3 linked regions of the Homo sapiens genome follow. The protein of the gene in region 2 purifies or fractionates together with the protein of the main gene of each other region. This does not show direct contact. Each region holds a gene or a part of one and is shown on either strand. Other genes may lie near its edges. The genes, in order: RAB21, EPB41L4B and PCLAF.

Region 1 (3,650 bases), on a different chromosome or scaffold from region 2:
CCTCTGCCTCCCCAGTTTAAGCAAGTCTCCTGCCTCAGCTTCCCAAGTAGCTAAGATTATAGGCATGTGCCACCAAACCCAGCTAATTTTTTTGTATTTTTAGTAGAGATGGGAGTTCACCATGTTGGCTGGGCTGGTCTCTAACTCCCGACCTCAAGTGACCCGCTGTCCTCGACCTCCCAAAGTGCTGGGATTACAGGCGTGAGCCACTGTGCCTGGCCTCAATCTTCTCTTAATAAAATACTTAAACTATGTCTTTTCATGCAAAACGCGAGAGGGAGATAACAAACAGCAGCACCAAAATAACTTTTAAAAATCATTAAATCTACAAGGTACCTATCGTTTCATTTTCTACTTTTGGATTAAGTTTTTCCATTTATCATTAATAACCCAAGGGCTAACTTGTATATCTGCTCTATCAGATTTAACTGGGAAAAAAAATAAAGAGAAAAAACAAAACAAACAAGGTAAGTAATTTTACCAAGAACAAGCCTGTAACTCAAGGCAAGAAAAGCTTCTTCCTTGGCATTATTCCCTGTAGTTACACATTGTTGACATATTCCAAGAAGAGCTTTAGGAGAAAAGGTCAAATAAGTAACCCATCTGATTGTGATGAAAATTCAGAGGTAATTAAATGGTAACTCATTTTTGGTCCCAAACAACTTTAAGAGTCATACGTATGTGGTGTGTTTTTGAAGGGAAGTAAACTAATGAGATAACTTTAAGACTGTCCTTTTAAAACTTTTATTATATTTGGCAAGGAGAAAGCTTAAATGTGATGTTGTTCCTCCTTTTTCCTCTTCACAATAAAGGAACCCGTCCAGCCACACCAAGTTTAAGAGCCCAATGCGTATGGAATTAAGGAAATATGTGTGATTTTTCCTTAAGAGGGAAAAACAAAAGCCCCCATATTTTTCTGAAGCTCAATTTCAAATATTTCCCTTCCCTAATATTTGAGAAAGCCATGTAATAAGGCATTAATTATTCTAACGTAAATTAATTCATATGAATCAAATATTTCATTAAACATATGAGTACACCACCATGTTGTAGGTGAAAAGAAAAATAAAATGTAAGTGGTCACCAGTTATGCACAAATTATATACTTTATTTTTAAAAAGAAAACTAATCACATTAGTGAATAAAGGTATATTAATGGAAACTTGAAAAATTACTATTGTTCTTCTAAGACATCTACCCATGAATAGAATACCTTCTGAAAAGAATCTTCATCTGTTATGTCATAAACTAAAATCGCTCCATTTGAATCTCTGTAGTAAATTGGACCCAATGCATGGAATCTCTCTTGACCTGCCGTATCCTAAAGAAAGCAACAAATGCTTATTAGATCAGAAGAAAAATACAAATCTGCGATTGCAACTATGGTGAACTTTTTGATTAATTGGAAAATATGGCATAAAGTCAAAGACAACCACAAAACCCTATTAACAGAAACAAAACAGCAAAACAGGCCACACACAAAATTTTTAAGTTATGACCAATATGTAATGTTTTAGTGATATACAAAAGTTACTTTTTCCCTCCCAACCTTCCTCCTCCTCAGCACTTCCCCACCCCCATTAAAATACCAGTTTCAGTTGCCAGAGGGTCAAAACAACCAACACAGTATTATAAGCCAGGAATAGGCTCTGCCCTAAGTTTAAGTTCCCACACTGGGAGAGACAGGGAAATGGCACGTGCATCAAGATCACCAGTCAAGAAGTATCTGCTGCATTATCCTCACCCACCAGCCATTCTCTTAGAAGGCTGGAATATGGAGACACAGGGTGGGGAAAAAAAGGCCAGGCAAGCTGTCCACCCACCCTGTCCTCTCTCTGAAGTGGAACCCCTCTGAGTTGACCCTTCTCCAACTGAAAAGTTATGACAGCAATATTCAAATATACAATTATATTCCAGATATAATTCTCAACCAGATTTTAAGATTCTTTTTAATTAAAAAAAAAAAAAAGTGTTGGCTAAGCTCCAATTAACTTTAAAAAAAAAGAAAAAAGGAAGAAGCCTCCACGCATAATAGTTGAAAAAGTTCACTTACCCATATGGCAAGGTTTACTCTTTTCCCACCAATATTTAACTTCTTTGTTAAGAATGATGCCTAAAAAGAGAAATAAACATTAAACAATGTTTCTTATAAAATAAGGTTCTTTATCCTAACAACTATAGATGAATGAATCATCTCAATGTAAAAGTTATCTGGGAGAAAAAGTAATCACCGAGTTTTAAATTAATGATCGAAATTGTTTCATTAAAGATAAGACATTATTTACATTTTTATCTAAAAAAAAATCTTGTTTTCTGAAAATAGGTTATACAAAACACACAGAAAATAAGTATTTTTTTCTTAATATTTTTCCTTATCTATGTGGAACAAAATTTTCCCTAGAGCATTTAATTTGATGCTACCTTATCACAGAAAGAAAGAGTCTAAGAGATTTCTAAGATAAAATAAATGTTTACTGGTGGTTTACTTAATGTACAAATATCAATATTATTCAAAATGATTCCACAGTTACTTCATAACTCAATTGTTTAACATATATTCAATAATTATCCTAAGTATTAATGTCAGAGAAATGAAGGGACACGGTTCTACCCTTTATACTCTACTAGAGAAATAAAAATAAAGAGAATTACGATTCCATGTGATAATTGCTAAAATGGAGGGTCTTGCCAAATACACTGTAAAGATAGTACTGAGAAAGGAAGTATAACAGTTGTCTGAATGAGTCAAAGAAGGCTTCAGAGAGAAGGTAATGATCTCCCCTTTAGGAGCAGTAGGGACTGTTCCTGATAGATGAGTGAAGCCACTGAAGCCTCAAACACATGACTCCATCCCACAGGGAACTCCAAGTGGGTATGGTCAATACCAGAGATGAAACTACACAGATGGACTTTACCTTGTGGGTCTCAACAAAACCTGTTCTAAGACACCAGACATGTATTTAGACACACACACACACACGTCAAGTATACTTTGGAAATACTATGTATTGATTTTTATACACCAACAATGCACATTAACACATTAGGATGCTGCCAAAAGGAAGGCTAGCTGACTGTATTTATACAAGCATTTCCCAAACTCATTTGAACTTTTTTTCCCTGATTTTCTTCTGTATAGCACTGAACCTTTTTTTCCTGGAAAAATACCAAATTCATCCTAAAGAACAACTGTTTGAAGAAACAGGACTACTGACAAGGGAGAATCACTGAATGGTTTCAAGCAATGGGGAAACAGATCTATATTTTAAGAGAATGACCCTGGGATAGGAAGGGAGGTTGGACTAGAAAAGATAGGTAGAAAGAACACTTACAAAATTGGAGAAAAATATAAAAAAGGAGATCTGAACTAAGACCATGAAGATAGGAAAGAAAGAAGAGTATCAAGAGTTACTGAAGACAAAATATATCCAGAATCCAGAGTCAGCTGACGTGTTTAAAAAAAAGGAATAGAGAGCTGAGTTCAGACCTGTATAGAGATAGTCACATTTAGGTGTTATTTATATAGAAGAAAGTGCAAAGAAGGTGAAACAGATAAAAGGTCAGGATGGTGAATTACTGAAGGAAAGAAACAATTGAGATTTCTTTTACCTCAATTTCAGGAAGGTCTTTTTGCTATGGGCACACCACAG
Region 2 (3,650 bases):
TGGCTCTGTCACCCAGGCTGGAGTGCAGTGGCATGATCTCGGCTCATTGCACCCTCCCCCTCCCAGGTCCGAGCAATTCTCCTGCCTCAGCCTCCCGAGTAGCTGAGATTATAGGCATGTGCCACCACACCCAACTAATTTTTGTATTTTTAGTAGAGACAGATTTTGACTATGTTGGCCAGGCTGGTCTCAAACTCCTGACTTCAGGTGATCCACACATCTCGGCCTCCCAAAGTGCTAGGATTACAGGCGTGAGCCACCATGCCCGGTCAAGAAGTGAAGGCTTTTGAAAAGTGATTAAGTCATGAGAGTTCCACTCTTATGAATAGATTAGTGCCTTACAAAAGAGCTGGACGAAAAAAATCCCAAAGTGCTGGGATTACAGGCGTGAGCCACAGTGCCCCGCCTCCACCTCCTTTCTTAACAGTTCTCTGCCTCTGTGGTACCCAGCACTGGCTTGAGCAATGGAAAAGAGAAAGAGGGGAGGGGAGTGATGGCTGGACTTTCTACTTTCTTCATCATAGAAAAACTCATTCTATCCCATTTTTGACATTCCACTTGGGAGAGCAAAGTGGTGTCAGGTAGATCCAATCTGTCTACTGTTATGGGTCCCAGAAAGAGAAGTTACAAAAATAGAGAGTGAGCAATTAGAAATTTTATTATTTTATTTTATGACAGGGTCTTGCCATGTTGCCCAGGATGGTCTTGAACTCTTGGGCTTAAGCAACACTCCTGCTTCAGCCTCCCAAAGTTCTGGGATTATAGGCATGAGCCACCATACCCAGCCCAGAAATATTGTTAGCAATATGATAGAATGAGTTTATATCTTTTAAATCTAATAAAAATATGGGCTTTGATTCGGCATGTCCGTTATTTTATTTTTCTAGAAACTCACTTTTATTATACGTTACCAAAGAATTCATCTTTGGTATGAAAAGAACCTGTTGTTTATCAAATGTGGTTTGAAAAGTACTGAGGGCTGGACGCAGTGGTACGTGCCTATAATCTCAGCTACTCAGGAGGTTGAGGCAGGAGAATCGCTTGAAACTTGGAGGCAGAGGTTGTAATTATGCTTGTAATCCCAGCACTTTGGGAGGCCGAGATGGGTGGATCGCCTAGGTCAAGAGTTCGAGACCAACCTGGCCAACGTGGTGAAACCCTGTCTCTACTGAAAATACAAAAATTAGCTGGGCCTGGTGGCGTGCACCTATAATCCTGGCTACTTGGGAGGCCGAGGCACGAGAATCACTTGAACCTGGGAGGTGGAGGTTGCAGTGAGCCGAGATGGTGCCACCGCACTCCAGCCTGGGCGACAGAGTGAGACTCTGTCTCAAAAAAGAAAAGAAAAGAAAAGAAAAGTACTGAAGTGGAGGCTTCGATTCTAGCTCTTACCCTTGAACTGAGTTCCCTCTTTGATCTTCTATTTTCTCATCCATGAAATAGGGTAGAGGGTATTGAGATGATGACCAAGGAATCTTCCAGCTCTGATATTGTGTGAGTCTGTGAGCTGTTGAGACAGGATGGGCCATCCAACCTTCACCTTGGGGCCACAGGGAACAACTCTGTGTCAGCTGAGCTGGAAATGGAAACTCGACACCCACTTGGTATTGAAGAATCCGAACTCTGTCCCTCATCACTATCCACACTGCCCATGCCCTAGTCCCTGCCTCATCTTTGTATATCTAAATAACCATAACAGCCTCCTAAGGGGCACCCGCTCCAGGACAATCTCCAAATAGTAGCTGCCAAAGTCATAGTTCTCACCACATAACTCTGACCACATGCCATAAGACCTTTCATTAGCTCTTCACTGTCTGGGATAAAGTCCTCGCTTCTGAGCAGGGCCATACACAGACCTTGCGTATCCTGACCCCTGCCAAGGTCTTCATTCTTCCCTCCACTCCTCACCATACTCTAGCTACACAGAACTACTCTCTTCTTACAAAATACTCTACTGGGTCTCAACTCTGTCCTTTGCACCTGCTGTTCCCTTTGCCTGGAATACTTTTCCCCACCTTGTTGAACTCCTACACATCCCTTAGCAGCCCATTCAAATGTTCGCTTGTCAGTGAAATGTTCTCTAACACCCATCCTCAGTTCCGTCCTGCTCCTTTAGCAATTAAATAAACCTTTTCTCAGTCTTCTTCGGAATATCTCCACATGTGTCCGTCATCCCCATTAGATTAAAATTTTGTCTCATTCACCTCTTTCTTTCAGCTCCCAGATCCCAGTTGCTAACGATACTTGGCACAAGTTTTAATATGTAATGAATATTTAATATTTAATGAATATTTAATGTATTAATGAGTAAATTCAAGCTGGAAGGAGAAGTAGTGGCAAATGAATCCAAAGTAGCACAGAAATAAAAATCAATGGATTTGATTTTAGGAACATAACATGGCTTTTAAGGGCACGTTATATGCCTGTTTGCCTGAACACTAATCTTTCCAATTTGCATAATGCTTTTCCATTTTTAAAGCATTTATACATAAATGACTTCATTGGATATTCACAGCAACCCTGCAAGGTAAGTAATTTTATTTTCATTTTTAAATGGCTCAGAGGGTCAGAGAGGCAAAACAACGTACCCAGGGGCGTCCAGCTCATGTGTGGGACAGTTAAGCCTTGAAACCTTGACCTCAGATATTCTCACACCCTATCAGCTGATGCATACTGAAGGCATGAGAGCTGCTGGAGGAGGAGGCCGGCAGAAAGGGTGCTGGGAATCGGGCGCTGGCAAGTGTCCCTTTTCCCCTGTATCTATCTGTCCTTTCAACCTTTCCTTATTTATTTCTCCTGGCTGCTTTGTAGAACTGAGTCCAGGAACACCTGCCTTGTTCAGTGAAGCCGCTGCCCATCTAAAGAAGCTGGAACTGGAAACTGTGAAGGCTGCTGGACCCTGGCCTCCTCTGCACATCAACATAAACAAGGTGCCAAGGGCCGGGGCTCTGCCATGACCATGGACTTGGTGCTGACATCAAACCTCTGATTACTACCCTAGCCTGCCTGCTAAACCAAGTGCCTTTGCCTTGGAGGGATCTCTATTCCATCTTTCCTGACATTTCTGTTCAGGCTGTCTTTTAGGAGCAAATATTTACTTACCTTCCTTTTGGGTGAATTATAGCATTAGGCGTCGTTCCCAGTGTTTTGCCTGACAGGCTAGATCTGTTTGTTAGTTGTCTCTCCCTCCTACTAGACCGAAAGCTCCAGAGGGAGCATCCACATTTACCGCTTTGCATTTCTAGCCCTCTATCTCCCTCTGACAATGCCTGGCACATTGTAGATGTTCAGTAACCATTTGCAGATGGAAGGAAGGGAGGGATTAAGATACAGAAGGAGAAGGAGACAGGGCAGAAGCCAGGCCCCCTTTTGACTAGACCTATTCTTACATCCAAAGAGGCAGCCTTATAAAAGTCAAATTTTATCTTAGAACGATACATACCACTGCTGGATTCAGTCTGCCATTTAGTTCAACCTTCTCAATGTCTCAGACCAGAGGAAGGGAAATGACTTTCTCAAGGTTGCACAGCCCTTGACAACCTTCTCAATGTCTCAGACCAGAAGAAGAGAAATGACTTTCTCAAGGTCACACGGCCCTTCACAAGGTTGCAAAGCCCTTGACTCTCGATCCAGTGTCCTTGGCACTCCAA
Region 3 (4,248 bases), on a different chromosome or scaffold from region 2:
TCGGCCTCCCAAAGTGCTAGGATTACAGGTGTGAGCCACCATGCCTGACCGATTCTGTTTTATGTATGGTATTTAGAGAGTGAAAATCACTCCCCAGGGGTGTTGTGAGTAATTAGAAGGTAAGCATAAAGATAGAAAAAAATTATGACCCTTTATCCTAGAGTTATGCTCACTGTGTGACAGCGATGTGGTCTTACCACATTTGGCAGGGTCTTTTCGTTTCGTTTCGTTTCATTTCATTTCCTTGCCTTGCCTTGCCTTTCTTTTCTTTTTTCTTTTCTTTTCTTTCTTTCTTTTCTTTTCTTTCTTTCTTTCTTTTTTTTTTTTGAGACAGGATCTCGCTCTGTCGCCCAGGCTGGAGTGCATGGTGTGATTATGGCTCACTGCAACCTCTCCCTCCTAGGCACAAGCAATCTCCCGTCTCCTGAACTCAAGCCATCCTCCCACCTCAGCCTCCCGAGTAGTTGGGATTACAGGAACATGCCACTGCACCCGGCTAATTTTTGTATATTTTTTGTAGAGACGGGTTTCACCGTGTTGGTCAGGCTGGTCTCGACCTCCTGGGGTCAAGCGATCTGCCCGCCTCGGCCTCTCAAAGTGCTGGGATTACAGCCATGAGTCCCCGCTCCTGGCAGATTTGGCAGATTATTTAGGAGCTCTGACACCATTCGGTTCTCAAGAAGACGTTTTATTAGTTTCTTTTTATGTGTGTATGTATATACAATCCCCCTAGTTTTTGTTTAGTCTCACATCATCCTAAAGACATTTAAAAAAACCCTTGTAAACAAGTTGTATTAGCTTCCTTTTCCCCATTCCATAGAATTGTTTTAGTATGGATGCTGTACAAAGAGTTCATGCCTGGGGGACTAAAGGAAAGTTCTCAAGTTCTTTTAATTTTGATTTGCATCAAAAAGTCCGCTTAATTTCAGGTTTCACCTCCAGGAGTCAATCATTATGGACTTAAAGCTATAGTAACTTTTGAAGATCGTTTGTAATTCGCTGTCTTTGCTAGGTTTTCTTTTCTAAGCAGGCTCATTTCTGTAGTTCAGAAACTTAGCACCCACTAGTCGGGTACCCCTGGAGAGTCCTGGTACCGCCCACCTGGGGCGCCTACGAATCCTAGGCCTTTGCGTGTTGATGGACGGATTCGCGCTGCAAGAAGCCTCGCCGCTGTCACCACTGGGCATTGGCAATTGGTTCAGGGGGAACGGCGCGGAACCAATGGGAGCGGTGGCTCGGGAGAGACCTTGGAGCGCGCGGGAAAGAGACCAATATAAACTGTGGCGGGATAGTTTTCGGGTCCTTGTCCAGTGAAACACCCTCGGCTGGGAAGTCAGTTCGTTCTCTCCTCTCCTCTCTTCTTGTTTGAACATGGTGCGGACTAAAGCAGACAGTGTTCCAGGCACTTACAGAAAAGGTGAGGCGATCGAGTGTGGTACTGGAGGGCGGGGGGGTCCTCCCGGCAGCCTGGCCACGGGCGACAGACGCCAGAGGTCCCCCTGGGCCCTGTGCGCCAAACTCATCTAGCTAGCCAGGGAGTAGCCGCCTGGCCCCTTTACCTAGAAGAGGAAGTCGCAGGGGCAGGGTAAGGTTATCCTGCTGTTCTGGATCGCCAGGCTCTCCTCTCCAAGCTGCTGGGGTCCAGGACTCGGTGTCGGAACCCTCCTGCCCCTTCTGAACACCCTTTTTTGCCTCTCTTCACAGTGGTGGCTGCTCGAGCCCCCAGAAAGGTGCTTGGTTCTTCCACCTCTGCCACTAATTCGACATCAGTTTCATCGAGGAAAGGTAAGAAGAGCCCTCCTAAAGTTAGGGGATCAGTCCTGGCACCTGCAAGCCCCTGGCTTGCCATGAATTTCTTTTTCTTGAGGTACTCACGCCCGAATTTCTTCCTTGCCCTGTGATATAATAAGAGAGGCTGGGCCTTTTGGCCGGCTAGGGTAGAGGTGGGGGGGAGGTCTCATGGAAGGGAATTTCAAGCCTTGGAGTTAAGGACCGACACACCTTATCTTCAAGCCTATTTTTCTTTTCTTTTCTTTTTTTAGACAGGGCCTCTCTTTGTTGCTCAGGTTGGAGTGCAGTGGTGCAATCACTGGTCACTACATCCTCCACTTATGGGGCTTAAGCAATCCTCCCACCTCAGCCTCCAAAGTAGCTGGGGCTACAGGTACATGCCACCACGCCGGGCTTTTTTTTCTATTTTTTGTAGAGATGGGGGTCTCACTATGTTGCCTAAGCTGGTCTCAAACTCCTGGGCTCAAACAATCCTCCTACTGGGATTACAGGCATGAGCCACCACAGCCAGCCTATCAATTTTTGTTTTTTGGTTTAGTATTTTCCTTTTTCTTTCTCTTTCTTTTTTTGAGACAGAGTCTTGCACTGTTGCCCAGGCTGCAGTGCAACGGTGTGATCTTGGTTCACTGCAACCTCCGCCTCTCGGGTTCACACGATTCTCCTGCCTCTGCCTCCTGAGTAGCTGGGATTACAGGTGCACGCCACCACACCCAGCTAATTTTTTTGTATTTTTAGTAGAGATGGGGTTTCACTATGTTGGCCAGACTGATCTCAAACTCCTGACCTCATGATCTGCCTGCCTCAGCTTCCCAAAGTGATGGGAACACAGACGTGATCCACCACGCCCAGCTATTATTTTTCTTAATAATAACAGAGGCTATTTAAATATTGTTAGAGGCTATTTAAAAGCCCCCTTAGTAGATTAAGGGTTTGAACAATCGTTAACAGTGCTGAGTGCTCATTGCAATGTCTACTAAACTTTAATAAAAATGTTTTTGTTTTTGTTTGCTTGTTTTTCCTTTCTTCCTTACTCTTTTTTGTTTGTTTGTTTGTTTGAGTATGATGTCTGTGGGTTTTCTCCAACTTTGCAGCTCCTAATACTGTCTTTGGGAGAGTAGGAGTGAAACCCGGCAAAGGAAATAGCTTCACGCTGCTCCTTCTGTGCGTGGAGTAGATGAGAAAATGCCCTGCCATCTGGTGCCTCATTCCTTTCAGTAGGAAATTTGGCAGACAGGGAGATTAACGCTACAAGATTTAATTAAGAACATAAAGGTGAACACTGTTTAGGACTTCATGGGTTTTAAAGTCAATTCAAATTTCTCCCTATTATAAACATTTCATTAGAAAACATTTACTATTTCTATCTCTTCAGATAAAAGGAAATAGAAGTTGATGAATTTTTTTAGAGTAACTTATACCCTGTACCACTAGACTAAGTTTCTTTTTCTTTTCTTTTTTCTTTTTTTTTTTTGAGACAGGGTCTCACTCTGTTGCCCAGGCTTGAGTGCAGTGGTGCAATCACAGCTTACTGCAGATTTGACCCCAGGGTTCAAATGATCCTCCCACTTCAGGCTCTTCCCAAGTAGCTGGGACTGTAGGCGCATGCCACCACACGCCCGCCTAATTTTTGTGTTTTTTGTAGAGATGGGGTTTCATCACATTGCCCAGGCTGGTCTCGAACTCCTGGGCTGAAGCAATCCTCCCGCCTCAGCCTACCAAAGTGCTGGGATTACAGACGTGAGCCACCACGCCTGGCCTGATGAAATTTCATTAGAGCCGCATCTCATCGTCTGGTCCACTGTTGAATCACCAGAGCCAACTAAATAGGCCCTTACTGAATATATGTTGAATAAATGCATCCTTTAAGGCATTTTAAAAATCTCTATTTTTAATCCGAATAATTGGATGTATGAAATGGGTAATATCCTTATTTTAAAGATAAGGAAATTTAATATCTGGTTATATAACTTGATAAAGGTCACACAACTAAATCAGTGGAGTTGGGTTTGAACCTGTTGCTGCTATATTTTTTTTTTTTTCTGAGACACAGTCTCGCTCTGTCACCCAGGCTGGAGTGCAGTGGCATGAACTCGGCTCACTGCAACCTCCGCCTCCCGGGTTCAAGCAATTCTTCTGCCTCAGCCTCCTAAGTAGCTGGGATTACAGGCATGCGCCACCATGCCTGGCTAAATTTTGTATCTTTAGTGGAGGCAGGGTTTCACCATGTTGGCCAGGCTGTTCTCAAATGCCTGACCTCATGATCCAACTGCCTCGGCCTCACAAAGTGCTGGGATTACAGGCGTGAGCCACTGCGCCCAGCTGCTGCTGTATGTTTTCTAGTAGTAAAAGCATTCCTGTAAGGTTCCTTTGGGAAAACTGTGAACCAAAAGATCACTATCTTTTATATGCCATTCCTTCTTTTGGAGGCGAAGGCGGGACGGTTGCCTCAGCCAGGAG

The links.
Region 1: the proteins of EPB41L4B (region 2) and RAB21 purify together in Homo sapiens (affinity purification with mass spectrometry; one large-scale study listed by BioGRID and IntAct). This does not show direct contact.
Region 3: the proteins of EPB41L4B (region 2) and PCLAF purify together in Homo sapiens (affinity purification with mass spectrometry; one large-scale study listed by BioGRID and IntAct). This does not show direct contact.

What each region holds. Positions count from the first base shown.
Region 1 is NC_000012.12:71,768,263-71,771,912, reverse strand, and holds part of RAB21 (ras-related protein Rab-21), read right to left. Parts: intron 2,114-3,650; coding exon 2,054-2,113; intron 1,322-2,053; coding exon 1,214-1,321; coding exon of another isoform or gene 1,211-1,213; intron 1-1,210. UniProt on the Homo sapiens protein: The small GTPases Rab are key regulators of intracellular membrane trafficking, from the formation of transport vesicles to their fusion with membranes.
Region 2 is NC_000009.12:109,212,980-109,216,629, reverse strand, and holds part of EPB41L4B (band 4.1-like protein 4B), read left to right. Parts: intron 1-2,811; coding exon 2,812-2,930; intron 2,931-3,650. UniProt on the Homo sapiens protein: Up-regulates the activity of the Rho guanine nucleotide exchange factor ARHGEF18. Involved in the regulation of the circumferential actomyosin belt in epithelial cells.
Region 3 is NC_000015.10:64,378,495-64,382,742, reverse strand, and holds the start of PCLAF (PCNA-associated factor), read left to right. Parts: upstream 1-1,301; 5' UTR 1,302-1,371; coding exon 1,372-1,417; intron 1,418-1,704; coding exon 1,705-1,785; intron 1,786-4,248. UniProt on the Homo sapiens protein: PCNA-binding protein that acts as a regulator of DNA repair during DNA replication.